4 linked regions of the Homo sapiens genome follow. The protein of the gene in region 1 purifies or fractionates together with the protein of each later gene. This does not show direct contact. Each region holds a gene or a part of one and is shown on either strand. Other genes may lie near its edges.

Evidence for each region. The genes of interacting proteins can lie anywhere in the genome.
Region 2: the proteins of NT5E (region 1) and SCAMP1 purify together in Homo sapiens (affinity purification with mass spectrometry; 3 studies listed by BioGRID and IntAct, with this or other methods). This does not show direct contact.
Region 3: the proteins of NT5E (region 1) and GLMN purify together in Homo sapiens (affinity purification with mass spectrometry; 3 studies listed by BioGRID and IntAct, with this or other methods). This does not show direct contact.
Region 4: the proteins of NT5E (region 1) and VANGL2 purify together in Homo sapiens (affinity purification with mass spectrometry; 3 studies listed by BioGRID and IntAct, with this or other methods). This does not show direct contact.

Annotation. Positions count from the first base shown.
Region 1 is NC_000006.12:85,484,583-85,488,082, reverse strand, and holds part of NT5E (5'-nucleotidase isoform 1 preproprotein), read right to left. Parts: intron 2,849-3,500; coding exon 2,651-2,848; intron 749-2,650; coding exon 594-748; intron 1-593. UniProt on the Homo sapiens protein: Catalyzes the hydrolysis of nucleotide monophosphates, releasing inorganic phosphate and the corresponding nucleoside, with AMP being the preferred substrate. Shows a preference for ribonucleotide monophosphates over their equivalent deoxyribose forms.
Region 2 is NC_000005.10:78,419,617-78,423,116, forward strand, and holds part of SCAMP1 (secretory carrier-associated membrane protein 1), read left to right. Parts: intron 1-2,184; coding exon 2,185-2,344; intron 2,345-3,500. UniProt on the Homo sapiens protein: Functions in post-Golgi recycling pathways. Acts as a recycling carrier to the cell surface.
Region 3 is NC_000001.11:92,271,488-92,274,987, reverse strand, and holds part of GLMN (glomulin), read left to right. Parts: intron 1-3,335; coding exon 3,336-3,500.
Region 4 is NC_000001.11:160,410,564-160,414,063, reverse strand, and holds part of VANGL2 (vang-like protein 2), read right to left. Parts: intron 1-3,500. UniProt on the Homo sapiens protein: Involved in the control of early morphogenesis and patterning of both axial midline structures and the development of neural plate. Plays a role in the regulation of planar cell polarity, particularly in the orientation of stereociliary bundles in the cochlea.

The sequences.
Region 1 (3,500 bases):
GTTCCTGTCACACAAGGCCAGGGTTCTCTGGAGTCAAGTGAACAGATGAGTGAAAAACAGTCTGGCCAAACAGATATGCTTTTATCTATTATGTTGATATCTCCAGGGTAGCAGAGTTTGTGCATTTGCATCATCTTACAAAAGGAAAGCAACATCCAAAATTCAGACATCTAAGAACACCTTAAAATAAAGGTTTTAGTTCTTGTAAAGCAGTATGTTGGTGGTTACCTGATCTCCTTCCAGCACCTTAAGAAGGTACTGAGTATGAAGCTACATCAGGCTTTTGTTTAGGCACTAATGTTTTATTTATTTTTCATATTTATTTAATTTTAGAGACAGAGTCTCGCTCTTTTGCCCAGGCTGGAGTGCACTGGTGCAATTATAGCTCACTGCAGCCTCCTGGGCTCAAGCCATCTTCCCACCTAAGCCTCCCGAGTAGCTGGGACTATAGGCACATGCCACCACCCTGGCTAAAAATGTTTTGAAATCCCTCATTCTGTAGCTATCGATCTATCCCTTCTCGCATCCTTCCTTCCTCTTCCCTCTTCCTTTCCTTCCTCCCTAGCATATGTCCACTCCTGCTGATGACTTACCATTGCATCACAAATCAGGTTGCCCATGTTGCATTCTCTAAAGCGGCATGATTGAGAGGAGCCATCCAGATAGACAATTGTTTTCCCTAATTCCTGGGTAGAATAATTATCCAATTTTATCCTCCATTTGTTAATGTCTGCTTTTATGCTTGGATCTAGAAGAAAGAAAAGAAGGTACCCTACAATTAAATCTCACACTGGGCTAAATTCTGGAAAAGGAATGAAACATCATCTATCTTACTTGCTGTGAGAACATATTTGTTTACCATATTTGTGTGCATTTTGGTTTTGACCATGAAATTTCCTTAGGAACTTCTATTTTGTTTCCTGGTAATAAGACCTGGAATGCATCTTAATTTAAGAATATTCTGAACATCTACCAGCTCATCACATCTGTATGAGCTACCCATTGGCCCACCTGGGACAGCATTAGTGGTGGCGGTAGGAGCTCTGAAAGGCCCAGGGGCAGTTATAAAAGGCCTGCTGAGGTACAGCTGGGCTATCGCTGTCAGTGTGGTCCTGGGCCCCTTTCCCATCTGGCTACTGAGAGGGCTGTGTTGTGACTACAGGCTCACCTGGGTGCTGTGCACCTCATCTTCCTGACATGATCATAGTCAACAGAAAAGGGAAAGTGAGAGACAAGCACAGGAGTGTGTTCTGTACACATATGAAAATCAATGATATAAAAATGTATTTTTACTCTGAGACTCATGTAGGGAGACGCCCTGAAACTATTGCTACGGAATAAAAGATGAAATGCTCCTGATTATTGTAAATACAAAATTGCATGCAGGATTGTGTAAAGACAATGCCAGGTTGGACTGCCACAATGAGCCAACAGCACGTGATGTGCTTCCCCCTGCAGAGAGCCTACAAATGGACGTGCAGTCAGGGAGGTTTCCCATCACCAAGATTCCTATCCCAGAAAAGCAGATGTTCATAGCTCTGGGAATGGAATGTGACCCTTGTGGGGAGCCTATAAACGGACGCATGGGGGGGGCCTGTCCATATGGATAAGATAGGGCTATAAACACGCTCATCTTGCCGCCGCTCTTCTAGGCCTCTTTAGGGTTAAGGCGTACTCCCCTCTGAGAATTTCTGGTCTAACTGGTTATCTAGCTTCATGTCCTGTTTCCATGGATTATTTGTAACCAGTTTTTGTTGCAATTGTTACTGCTGATTAATATCTTGCTAATCATAGGTTATGGAAAGACTGTGTTTCTGTTCTAAGGCTCTGTTAGAAATTACTGACGCACACACTATATTGTAAATTCTTATCTCATACTGTACTTCTACATACAAATGTACTGTACTTCTACATACAAATGTTATGTTAAAGAATTACTTCATCCCCATGTGACCATCTCACCTCATAATCAAATGACCCTAAATCCCTCACTAACGTACCCCTGCCCTCACTAAACTTAATAATAAATGCTGGTATATCCAGTGCATTGTTGGCACCGCAGGACCAGAAGGCAGTGACCCCCCTGGACCCAGCTTTCACTATCTTGTGTGTGTCTATTATTTCTCAACCTGCCAATCTGCCTAGGAACAAAGAGAGAGCCCCATTGCATTGCGGGCTGCTGGCCAGATCCCGCAATAGACTCAGACATATAAATAAGGTACTCCCTCATTTGATAAAGAAACTGAGGCCCATGAGATTGGGCAACTTGCCTAAGGCACACTGCCTCTAGTTGGGGGGCCAGGACTTGAGCCCCGCTCTGCCCAATTAGAACCCCTTTAGTTCAGTTATCTCTCCTGTAAACACAAGCTGAGAGTGGCTTTGGCATGTCAGGATCAAGATTTTAAAAGGCAGAGGAAGCAGTGATGTATGGAATCTGATGCTGAGAAGACTTGAAGAAGCAAGTGGGGCTTTTGGCATTTGGGTGTGTTTTAAATCTATCCATGAAGAGGGCAAACTCAAGGAAGAAACTAAATTCTTCAACAGTATTATAGTCTTTTCCTGAAACATTAAAGGAAAAAAATGGGAAGGAGCAAAATATCCAGCCATCTAAATTTTAGATTGGTGGAACATTCCCCTGAACTTCACTTACCTTCAGGAATGCTGCTGTTTAGAAGAATGGGATTTCCATGGGAAGAGATGACGTTTCCTCTTTCATCAAACTCGATCTTCAGATAGCCTAGGTATTTGCCAAAAGCATAGGCCTGGACTACAGGAACCTTCCGCCCATCATCAGAAGTGACTATGAATGGGTACTTCCCAGCAGGCACCTCTTTGGAAGGTGGATTGCCTGAAATAAAAGAGCCACAGCTGATCAAGTCAGCCCTTGTACATACATGGCTGGCTGTAGGCCAGCGGGCTACTGGCTGGATGACAGAGTTTTAAATTGATGATTTGCCATCTGTTGCTCTACATAGCTAGTCTTTCAGAGCCCTATCTGGGCATTTGCCCATTTCCAAATGCCCTTTTGGTACATGAATCCTACCATTCTCAACTCAGCAGTCATTTACCAAGCTCTTCCTAAGACCCGGGCATTGTGCTTGTGCTGTGGGGCACACAAAGATGGAACGCCGTGAAGAGTATCCTCCAGGTTCACTGTGGCTCCATTCTCACTAGCCAGGTGGATTAGCCAAGCCACTTTACCATACTGTAGTTCAGTTTCCTTGCCTATAAGGTGGGCGAAATCCATTTTAAACAATCCCTATTTTACAGGGCAGCTGAGAGGATTAAATATCTAAACTCCCTAGCTGGGGTGCCTGGCACATTGTAGGTGCTCAATAAATATACAATAAGGGTGTATTTTTTCCCTTATAAGGGAATAGCAATCTCTAGAAACCCCAGACATATACTTCGGAGCTTAAAATCTTTAGTAGAAGATGCAGAGATGACAAAGAGCTGTTCTTGGCGTTTGCTGCTAAATTCTGCATCCCTTCAGGTGTCTT
Region 2 (3,500 bases), on another chromosome or scaffold:
CTGTCAGAAGGGGAGGTAGCTATTGAGGGTTCTCACATGCACAACATCTGGGTTAATGGATAATTTGTAGGGTACATTCTTGATGGAGGAAATTTACTTGTTTTTACTTTATGATTAATGAGACTACCACCCTTCCCTTAATGGATGAGATAATTTTCCTTAAAATCTTTTAGGAGCATTCTTCATGTATGTCAAGTTGTTTTGGAATGTGAGAAGTGTTTCCTAATGGATAGTCTATTTTTAACTCTTCATTAGTATTTTTCGAGATATTCTTGATCTAATATCTTTTGCTGAATCCTCAGTGTCAGTAGTATATATTTTTAATATTAAATGTCTGATTCCATATATGTACATGCTAACCAACTCTTATTTAATCAATATAATATATGCATTTATATTTTATATATGTTTATTTTTTTAAATGGGCAGAAATTGTCCTAGCATTTTATTTTATTTTGAGACAGAGTCTTGCTTTGTTGCCTAGGCTGGAGTGCAATGGCACGATCTTGGTTCACTGCAACCTCCGCTTCCCGGGTTCAAGTGATTCTCGTGCCTCAGCCTCCTGAGTAGCTGGGACTACAGGCACATGCCATCACGCCTGGCTAATTTTTGTATTTTCATCTATACTTGGAATAATTTTCATGAACTTTAAAGTGTAATTATACATATATTTTATCTTTCTTTCAGTGGATTAGGAAATAACCTAATTTGAAAATTGAAATTTAAGTTAGAATGTTCTTAAGGTCTAAAACTTTTTAAGGCAGCTGGATGCTATTTAATGCTGCAGAGTAATAATTTTCTATTTCACAATCTTCAATTCTGTTTTTAAGATCTTAACACAACCACCCTTATTTTGAGGCCAAGGGTTTTGAGTAAATTTATTATGAGCAAGCATTCCTGAGAGTTAAAAATCCTAATGGGACTAGAGTAATGAGTGAGAGTGTCTCTTTTGTGATAGAATTGAATGGGATTTTAAAGTGGGAAAAGCTCCTGCATTTCTATGGCTGAAAAATTGAAGCTTACAGAGGTTGAGTGATTGGCTTAATATTAGATGACTACAACCTAAGTGACTTCATCTGGAGCTCTTTTTAAAAAAAAACAAAAAACAAAACTCTAGAGCTTGTTTACTTATCTGGTGGGTTAGGTAAGAGCAAATTTAGGCATCCCAGAATGTGTGTGTGTATCCTGTTTCATTAATTATTAACTTATTTGATTTGTAAAGAAATCTTAAAGTTTGAGATTTAAAAAACTAGATCCAATAGGTTTTCCCAGTTGTTAATTTTAATTCAAGTAATTTGTTGGCATATTTTTATTGATTTGATAATTTACATTAAACATCATTTTAGCTTATATAAGAATGTACTTACTATAATAAATTCAGCCTGTGAATAAATTTTTAAAAAATCCTTTGAAACAGTTATTAATTACAATGGGTCAAAGTAGTTCTTTAGGATCATGGTATAGTTAGATGTTACTCAGATTTTTTGTTTTTGGTCTGTCAGGGAAAGCAATTATTAACAGCATATGATGAATTTGTCAACATCTATTTGTGTTAACCAAAAGAAAAGCCTGCCACAGTAGCTAAAATGTATCATGTTGTGTGGGGGAGTGAGGAGGGGACTTAATAAATTTAATCCTCTACCAAAACGCAAGTTTTTTTCAGGATTTTACAAATGGACAGCTCTATGAAGTTGAATGAACAATCCTTATACATTGACTATATAGTCACTAGAAATTGCTACTGTATTAGTATTTTTAGTCCAGTGTTTAGTCTGCAGCCCCATTCTGTAAAGATATGGTTTTTCCTCCTAAGTCCTGGGTCTTTTCCTGGCAGACACTGCTTTTCTTCTTGGGCTTCAGATCAAGAGACATCACGTTTCCTTTTCGGGAAGAAGCCCTTAAGGTAGTGCGCCTCTGGTTTAGCTACATCATTGCCTGTGAGGAGGAGAGGGCCAACAGAATTTTTGCCAAACAGTACATGTATTAAGACTCGCTTTCCTGTGTATACTCTGTTTTCAAATCAAATATGTAAGATACAACAGTGTTTTGAAAAATATAAATGGAAACATGGAGTAGAATACATTTGCTCTTAGGAAGTATTTTTTTATTTACAATTTTTTGTTGGATGAATTCATAAATTGAATGTAAATCTTTCTTTTTCTATTTTGTTTTCTGATTCCACAGTCCATGCAGTAACACTGTTTCTAAATATCTTCGGATGCTTGGCTTGGTTTTGTGTTGATTCTGCAAGAGCGGTTGATTTTGGATTGAGTATCCTGTGGTTCTTGCTTTTTACTCCTTGTTCATTTGTCTGTTGGTACAGACCACTTTATGGAGCTTTCAGGTAAAATGTGTGTACTTTAAAATACACTCTTTAAAACCTGTGAAGTAAATAATTCGTAGTATACATTAAAGGGAAAATTGATGCATTTTCATTAAAAAATTCTTGTATTGTTGTGTAACATACCTTCAGGAAAGTTCAATATAGCATGCCTGTGTATTCATTGGATTTTGTAAGTCATAAAATTCCATTTTTTTCTCCCATTTGATAAAAGACCAAACATGAAAATTGATGGAAAAATAAGAACAGTCTTAGAAGTTAATATTTATAAAATATTCTCTTCCATATGTTATACTTCAAGGAAAATTTTGCTGTTTGCCCACCCCACCTCCCAAATCAAAATCCCAATTGGTGCTTATGGTTTTTTTTTTTTTAAATTAACCTAAGTAAGGTAAATATACATGCAATATTTAAAATGAGCCATTTGCACCTAGCAACTTGGATTATTTTCTTTATAAATCCATTTTAGGTTTTTTCAAAGGCAGCACCATTTTAAAAACGATTTATGCTACTAGGTTAAGTATAATGCTTTACATAGTATATTTTAATCAGTGGTTAGGGTTAACATTTCCTTAGCGCATGTTCTGTGGGATATTAATAGGTGCTGGGGGAGAAAAAAAGAGCTCATAAGCTTAGTAAATTTGGGAACAGCTGGATAATAAGGTTAAGCAAGTTTCTTCATTTCAGGATTTCTTACACTCTTTAAGTACCTAGTATGATTTGTGCCTTATGACTTGACCATGCAACCATTATTTTTCTGTGGAGTACTTTGTTGGACTATTGCTTTAAGAAGTATTGGGAAATACTGATTGAAATGATAGTCCTATATGGGTTCATATATTTAATAGTTTTTTTAAACTCATTTTTATTTGAGTAAATTCTTGTGAATAACCATTTCAACTCTCGTGAATAAGGGGTAACATTACTAGGATATATGCGTGTGTTGTTTAAAGGATATATTAGGGAAATTAGAGGCCCACATTTAAGTGTTCAGTATGTTTTGCCATTGCAACCTAAAATCTCTTTAGTTAACCAGAATGTGTAACACACGCGCGCGCGCACACACACACACACACACACACACACACACACACAGAGTTAGAAACCCAGATCTGTAAACAGATGAGGGAAAAACAGAAGAGAACAGGAGATGGGAGAA
Region 3 (3,500 bases), on another chromosome or scaffold:
TTTTACTGGGTAGATACTGCTGAAGGAAATACAGGGTGCAGATAGTTCAGCTGGTCAATAATCCATGATTCAGGTTGGATAGGGAAAGAAGGGGGGTTAGGAGGGAATGCCTAGGTAGGTCAAAATGTAGGAATCACAGGACTGGAGAAGTCAGAAGTAGAAAAGCAGATTGCTAGGAGAGACAGGATGACAGATTTTGGTCAGAAAATGGGATATTGGAGTTTAAAGTATCAAATACAGAATAGTTCCAGATGTTCAGAGATCCAGCATGGGATTAGGTACTGAAATGGATTAGAACTAAAAGTCACTAGAATTTAGAAATTGAGAACCATGAGAGTGGATGCAATGACTTGTTGCTTGATTGAAAAATAAATTAATAATAATAAAGGACCATGAGACTAGCCTGTTATAGGGGTTATCTCCATGAACATTGAATTTTCCCAGGATCATAGCAGGAATTGGGTAGAGAAAAAGATTATGAGAAGGTGCCAGAGTCTTCAGTGAATGTCAGGAAATTACCAGGAAGTCAGCATATGACAGAGAAAAGGACAGTATGTTATCTGCATCAAAGGAAAATGTGCTTTTGTTGAAAAGTACAGAAAAAGCCAATACTACAATACTGTGCTAAGCCCCTACCTGTACTCCTCTACCCAACAGCTGCATTCCAGGCCCTGTGGTATAAAAGGTGTGAGAATGAGCATCTCCCACCAGAAATCAGACAGGTTTAGTTAAAGCAGTGAGGCAGAACAAGCATCCTATGAAGAGACTGAGGATGTAGGTGAGTGGTTCTAAAATCTCAGTAGAAGGAACATTGCAAGTAGAAAGAGCCAGCAGTAAGGATGCACGTAGCAGTCTAGAAGTAGAGGTGAGACCAGCTTGGAGATGAAATGAGGAGATGTCTTCTGTTCTGTGCTGGAGAAGTACTGGTAAGTGTGGTGTGGTTGGGATTCACAGGCCTCAGCCATCCTCACTTTGGTACAAGTTATTTTGGTACAGAACTACTAGAATGTCCCAAAGGCTGTAGTACAGGAACATTTCTGAAAGGACAAAAGCTGCCATGAATATTGAGAAATTGTATGGTGCCAGGTACAGCCTGGATCTGAGCAAGACTGCTGGATGGTGTGTGGATAGATAGTGAAGGCCCAGATTTGGGAACAGATTGGATCTCAGATATCCAGAGCAGCACTGTAGAATCTAGTTGCATATAATAATGTTTTAAAAAGGGTATCTTAGGCTGGGCACGGTAGCTCCCGCTTGTAGGCCCAGGCCTTTGGGAGGCCAAGGTGGGCAGATCACTTAAGCCCAGGAGTTCAAGACCAGCCTGGGCTGCATGGCGAAACCCCATCTCTATAAAAAATAAAAAAAATAAAAAAAAAATAGCGGGCATGGTGGCATGTACCAGTAGTCCTAGCTACTCAGGAGACTGAGGAGGGTGGATTGCTTGAGCCTGGGGAAGTCAAGGCTGCAGTAAGCCATGATCATGCCACTACACTCCAGCCTGAGTGACAGAGTGAGACCTTGTCGCCAAAAAAAAAAAAAAAAAAAACAGGGCTACCTTACTCTGGAAAAAACACATGTAGCATTGGCTGAATAAAGAAATGGAGCTTCATGATTAAGGACATTTGGAATCAGAGTGCAATAAACTTTTTGTCTTGTAGCTATAACCAGAATGCATGGCTTTGAAAATCACTGCAGCAGTATATATTTAGCATCTGGTCGCTGAATAGCAGTCTCTTGTGACTGAGGATGATTTTCCATGGTTCCTTTTTGTATTCTGAAATGACTAATGGAACCATCTGGGATCAGCAGATTTTAAGTCCCTGAAGGCTGGAAAAGACTTATACTTGGCTTTATAATTCCCCACAAAGTCAGGCCCAGCACCTTGCACTTAAGTGTTTATTGAATAAAAGAGTGACTTGTGTGGAAGTTATTCATTCTGCTTTAGCTGTTTTTGTCATTCATTCCCTTTTAACTCTTGTAGTTTGTTGTGACTTTAACTTTCTTACGCTTTTTTTGTGGAGCTGCTCGATAAATATTTGACATAGGTATTATGTCATTTTATGGCTCATCCAGTGTCACACAAGTAGTAAATGGTAGAGCCAAAACTCAAAATCAATGTCAGTGGATTCTGAAGGTAGGTGCTTTCTGGTACGCTAGAATTAGTACCAGTATAAGAGGCATAGGAGTGATCTTGTTTCCTGAGCGGAAAGCTTTATTTAGCCCTGTGGTCCTACCCACTCATGCAAGGATGCTTCTCTTTCTCGTCTCACATGAGAACCCTGATGACTGAGAGATCAACAGTGTTTCCTCAGGCCCAGCTGCCCTGCCCAGCGTTCCTGCATCCCACTCTCTACAGGCACAATGTTAGTGGAGCATTGTTCCTAGAGTATTCTTCATCTTAGTTGCTTTACCCTTGCTTCATATATTTGTATGTCTCACGTTTCAGATTGCTCTCAAATATCCCTGAAGCACTTTTTTAAAAAAAATTGTGGTGAAATATACATAAAATTCATCATTTTAAACTTTTTAAACTATGATTCTGAATTAATTTAGAATACTTCTGATGTATAAAATGCTATGTAAAATACGATTTTGCTGTTGGCTTCTGTATTAGTTTTTCATTGCTGTATAACAAATTCCTGCAAACTTAGCAGTTTAAAACAGCATACCTTTGTTATCTCACAGTTTCTATGGATCAGGAGTCCAGCCACAGCTTAATTGGGTCCTCTGCTCAGGGTCTCATTGGGCTACAGGCCAGTTGTTGACTGGGTCTGTAGTCTTATCAGAAGCTTAACTGGGGAAAGATCCACTTTCAGGTTTCCTCCGCTGGCAGAATTCATTTCCTCTAAGCTGTAGGACTGAGGTCCCCATTTTCTTGCTGGCTGTCAGCCAGGGACCACATTTAGCTTCTAGGAGCTGCCTGTAGTTGGTCCCTTGCCATGTAGTTCTGTCCATGAGCCTTCTCATAACATGGCAGCTTAGTTCTTTAAAGCCAGCAAGGGAGAGAGTCAGAGAGCAAAGTTTCTGACTCTCAGGGAAGGCCTGGACCCCCTTTAAAAATATACCTGATTAAGTTAGGGCCACCCAACTCAAAATCTACTGATTTGGGACCTTAATTACATCTGCAAAAACCCCTTCACTTTTGTCATATAATCTAATCATGGGAGTGACATCTTGGCGCATTCTGTTGGTTGAAAGCAAGTCTCATAGGTCCCACTCACGCTCAAAGGGAGTGATTACACCTCCCCTTGGTGAGAATGTGGAGTTTGAATACACGGGGTGGGGGGCATTTTAGAGTCTGTGTGCTATGGTTTCCTTTTTTATCCATTTCATAGGGTTTTTTATCAGCAATTGGACACCCTTTCCCCAAAATGATTTTTAATCATGGAAGGAAAAAGAGAACTTGGAATTACCTTGAATTTGAAGAAGAAGAAAATAAACAGTTAGCAGACTCAATGGCTTCTCTGGCATATCTAGTATTTGTACAGGGCATCCATATT
Region 4 (3,500 bases), on another chromosome or scaffold:
AATGTTGGTGGTCAAATCAACAGGACCTAATGAGCGGGAAGGGAGAGTTAAGAATCCCCGGCCTGAGCAAGGGAGCAGATGGTAGCACCATCAGTAGGGTAGGGAAGACTGGGGAGGAAGCAGCCTTGTGAGGGAAGATAATTAGTTCAGCTTCTAGCCTGCTAAGTTAGTGGCCATGAGACAGTAGGCAGCCAGGTGTCAGACGAGCCAGACTTGGAGGACAGTCTGAGCTGGAGGTACTGAGTGTGTGAAAAGCTATGGGGATAGATAGAACTCAGATCCAGCTGAGTTCAAAACCTAACTCTTCCATGGACATAAAGGACCCCAATAGGTAGACATGTCCAGAGGAAAAGGAGCAGGCAAAGGGGATGAGAAGGCCAGAGGAGGAGGGGAGCCAGAAGAGTGGGGTCTCAAGGCAGCCAGAAATTTAACAGTGTTTTGAGGTGGGAATTAAGTCAACCAGGTCAAATGCTGCTGAGAGGCTGATTATGTTAAAAACTAAAATGGGGCCGGGTAATCCCAGCCTGTAATCCCAGCACTTTAGGAGGCCAAGGCGGGTGGATCACGAGGTCAGGAGTTCAAGACCAGCCTGGCCAAGATGATGAAACCCCGTCTCTACTAAAAAGCATGGTGGCAGGTGCCTGTAATCCCAGCTACTTAGGAGGCTGAGGCAGAGAACTGCTTGAACCTGGGAGGTGGAGGTTGCAGTGAGCCGAGATCATGCCACTACACTCCAGCCTGGGCGACAGAACGAGACTCCGTCTCAAAAAAAAAAAAAACCTAAAATGGATTTGCTTTGTATCATTACCTTTACTCCAACTACTCTAAACCATCAGTAATTTGAGAATAAGCAATATGATTGATACATATTTATATCCATCTCGCCTCCCATGGGCACAGAGCAAGGAACTGATACCAACCTAGTAAATGAACATAGTCATGCCTCGCTTAACCACAGGGATACTTTCTGAGAAATGTGTCATTAGGCAGCTGCATCCTGGGAACATCATAGAATGTACCTACACAAACCTTGACGGTATAGCCTACTACACACATAGGCCTTATGGTATAGCCTATTGCTCCCAGGCTACAAACCTGTACAGCATGTTACTGTACTGAACACTGTAGCCAACTGTAACACAATGGTAAGTACTTGTGTACCTAAACATAGAAAAAGTACAGTAAAAATACAATAGTATAATTTTATGGGACCACCATCATATATGTGGTCCATCGTTGACCAAAACATCCATGACTGTATGCCTCTCTGGCTCTCAGGGAAACTATAATGACTGTAGGGAGATGAAAGCATGTGAAATCTATTCATTCATCTTCTTAACAGAGTTCAATGGAGGCAATCCTCCATAGGATTAGTTATATTTGTCAGTATCCCCATGTCAAAGCACGTGCGTGATAAGGACACACTTAGAGGACAGGGACATAATACCTTAACCCAACCATAAGCCTTTCCAAAAAACTTTGCAGCAAAAATGACCCTTATTTATCCCCCTACCTGAAAAATATATGTTGGGCTCATCTACCCACTCTCCTGAGGACCCATTCTACTGGCCTACTCCTCCTTATAGTTTAGACATCTGACCTGCATTTCTCTTGTGGTTCCAGCCTATTCTTTCTAGTCTTCTTCATAAAAACTGAATTTTGCTAGGAGGCTCAAAGGCAACGAGTGGGTCACAGAGTGACATGGGGGTAGAGAAGGGGGTGGAGAAGTAAACAACTGCCACGGACTAGAGTCTAGACACACACACTAGATCCCAGGCTGTCCATCTCCTCATCCTCCTGTATACCCATCATCTGCCAAAGCCAACAGCCAGAAGAGCCAGAGATGTGCACTCAAAGATCTGAGTTCAAAACCTAACTCTTCCACTGACTAGCTGTGTGACTATGTGCAAGTTACTTAACACCTCTGTGCTTGTAGCCTGGTAAGCTCATTAGTAAAATAGTGAAGACAATGATGCCTTTTCATGGGGTAGCCGTAAGGATCACGAGGGTGAAAGAAGTGCTTTTATAAATGGTTCAGCTAGTAATTAGTTAAGCAATTAACAAGTTTTAGCTCCAGGATCACTCATACTCCAATCCTCAGACACTTCCTCTGAGACTAGGGAAAGAGGTGGTATAAATAAACCCTGCTGTTAGTACAACTAAATAAAGAAGTCTCACACATACACACACACACACACACCAACCAGAACCACCACTTCAAACACACCCAGAAGGTAAACTGATGCCATTTCATTTCCCCTACAGATAAATTTCAAACCAGACAAGGGTACCAGTCCCCTTTTGTTCTGAGCTGCCCAGCCTAGTGCCCCCTATCTTCCTCCCCTGCTACTTACTAAAGACTCAACATGAATCCTGCTCCCCTGGCCTGCCAACCCAAGTCAGAGTGCCCAAAAAGCACCAAAACACGCTTGTCTCCTCCCTACCAAACACAGGTGCCAAAAATGAACCCGACTTCTGAGACCCTTGCCTGCTGTGTCTTCAAGTACACCAGGGAACTAATCCAAGCACTGCTGCTGGGGGGCCTGGGAGGAGGGAGGAGAGGGGAGTAAAGAGAAGGGCAGAAGTTCCCCTTATTTAATCAGTCTCAGGGATCAGGGGTTTGGAGGGTCCCCTGGGTGGGCAGCGTTCCCAGGGAAGAGATGGGGGGAGGGGATGGCTGGATGAGATCAACAAGTGGAAACGTCAAGAGGGATGACGAGACAGGGAGGGAAGTCCGGACTTGGTGCAGGACAGGGAGCTGCCCTAGTCTGGGGAAGGGGGAGGCTATAGAAAAGGAATGTGCCCCACTGCCTTTCACCTTGCCCCCCACTTCCCAAGACACAAACACACACACTCAGTCCCCTGCTCAAACCAACCATGGATTATCTGGGGTTAAAATGAGGCCAGGGAGGAGAGAGGGAGAGAAGAGAGAGCCTGTTACAAAAAGGAGACCCTTCTCCCCTCCAAAGGCCTTTCAGAAATAAAATTAATGGAATGTGTCTCAGTATCATCCCAAGGGGATTGGGGGGGAGCTTGGCAGGGGGGAATGTGGGGGCTTTTGTCCCTGCTGCCCAGCTTCTCCCACATTGATCACCATGGCAACAAAAGCCCCCTGTTGCCTAGGTGATGGCAGCCGGGTCCTGGAACCCATACCCAGCATCCAAAGGGAGGGAGGTTATGGAGGTGGGGGCAATAGGGACAGAGGAGGAGAGAATGGGGTTTCTCCTCTGGCGGCCCCAGCTTTTGTCTGAGCTCTGGGATCAGGTTTCTTCAGGAAACAATTGGAGGCCTCTGGAAAAAATACACTCAGAACCTGGCAACAGGCAGAGGGAGCAGGGCCCTAGAGTAGTGCGTGCGTGCGTGCGTGTGTGTGTGTGTGTGTGTGTGTATAAGGGGGGTGGGTGTTGGCCAAAACACAGACCAGGGCGGACCAACCCTTTCCCATTTCCCACTCAAAGGAGGCGGCTCAAGTGGGCAAGGCGTTGAACACAAACGCCAGC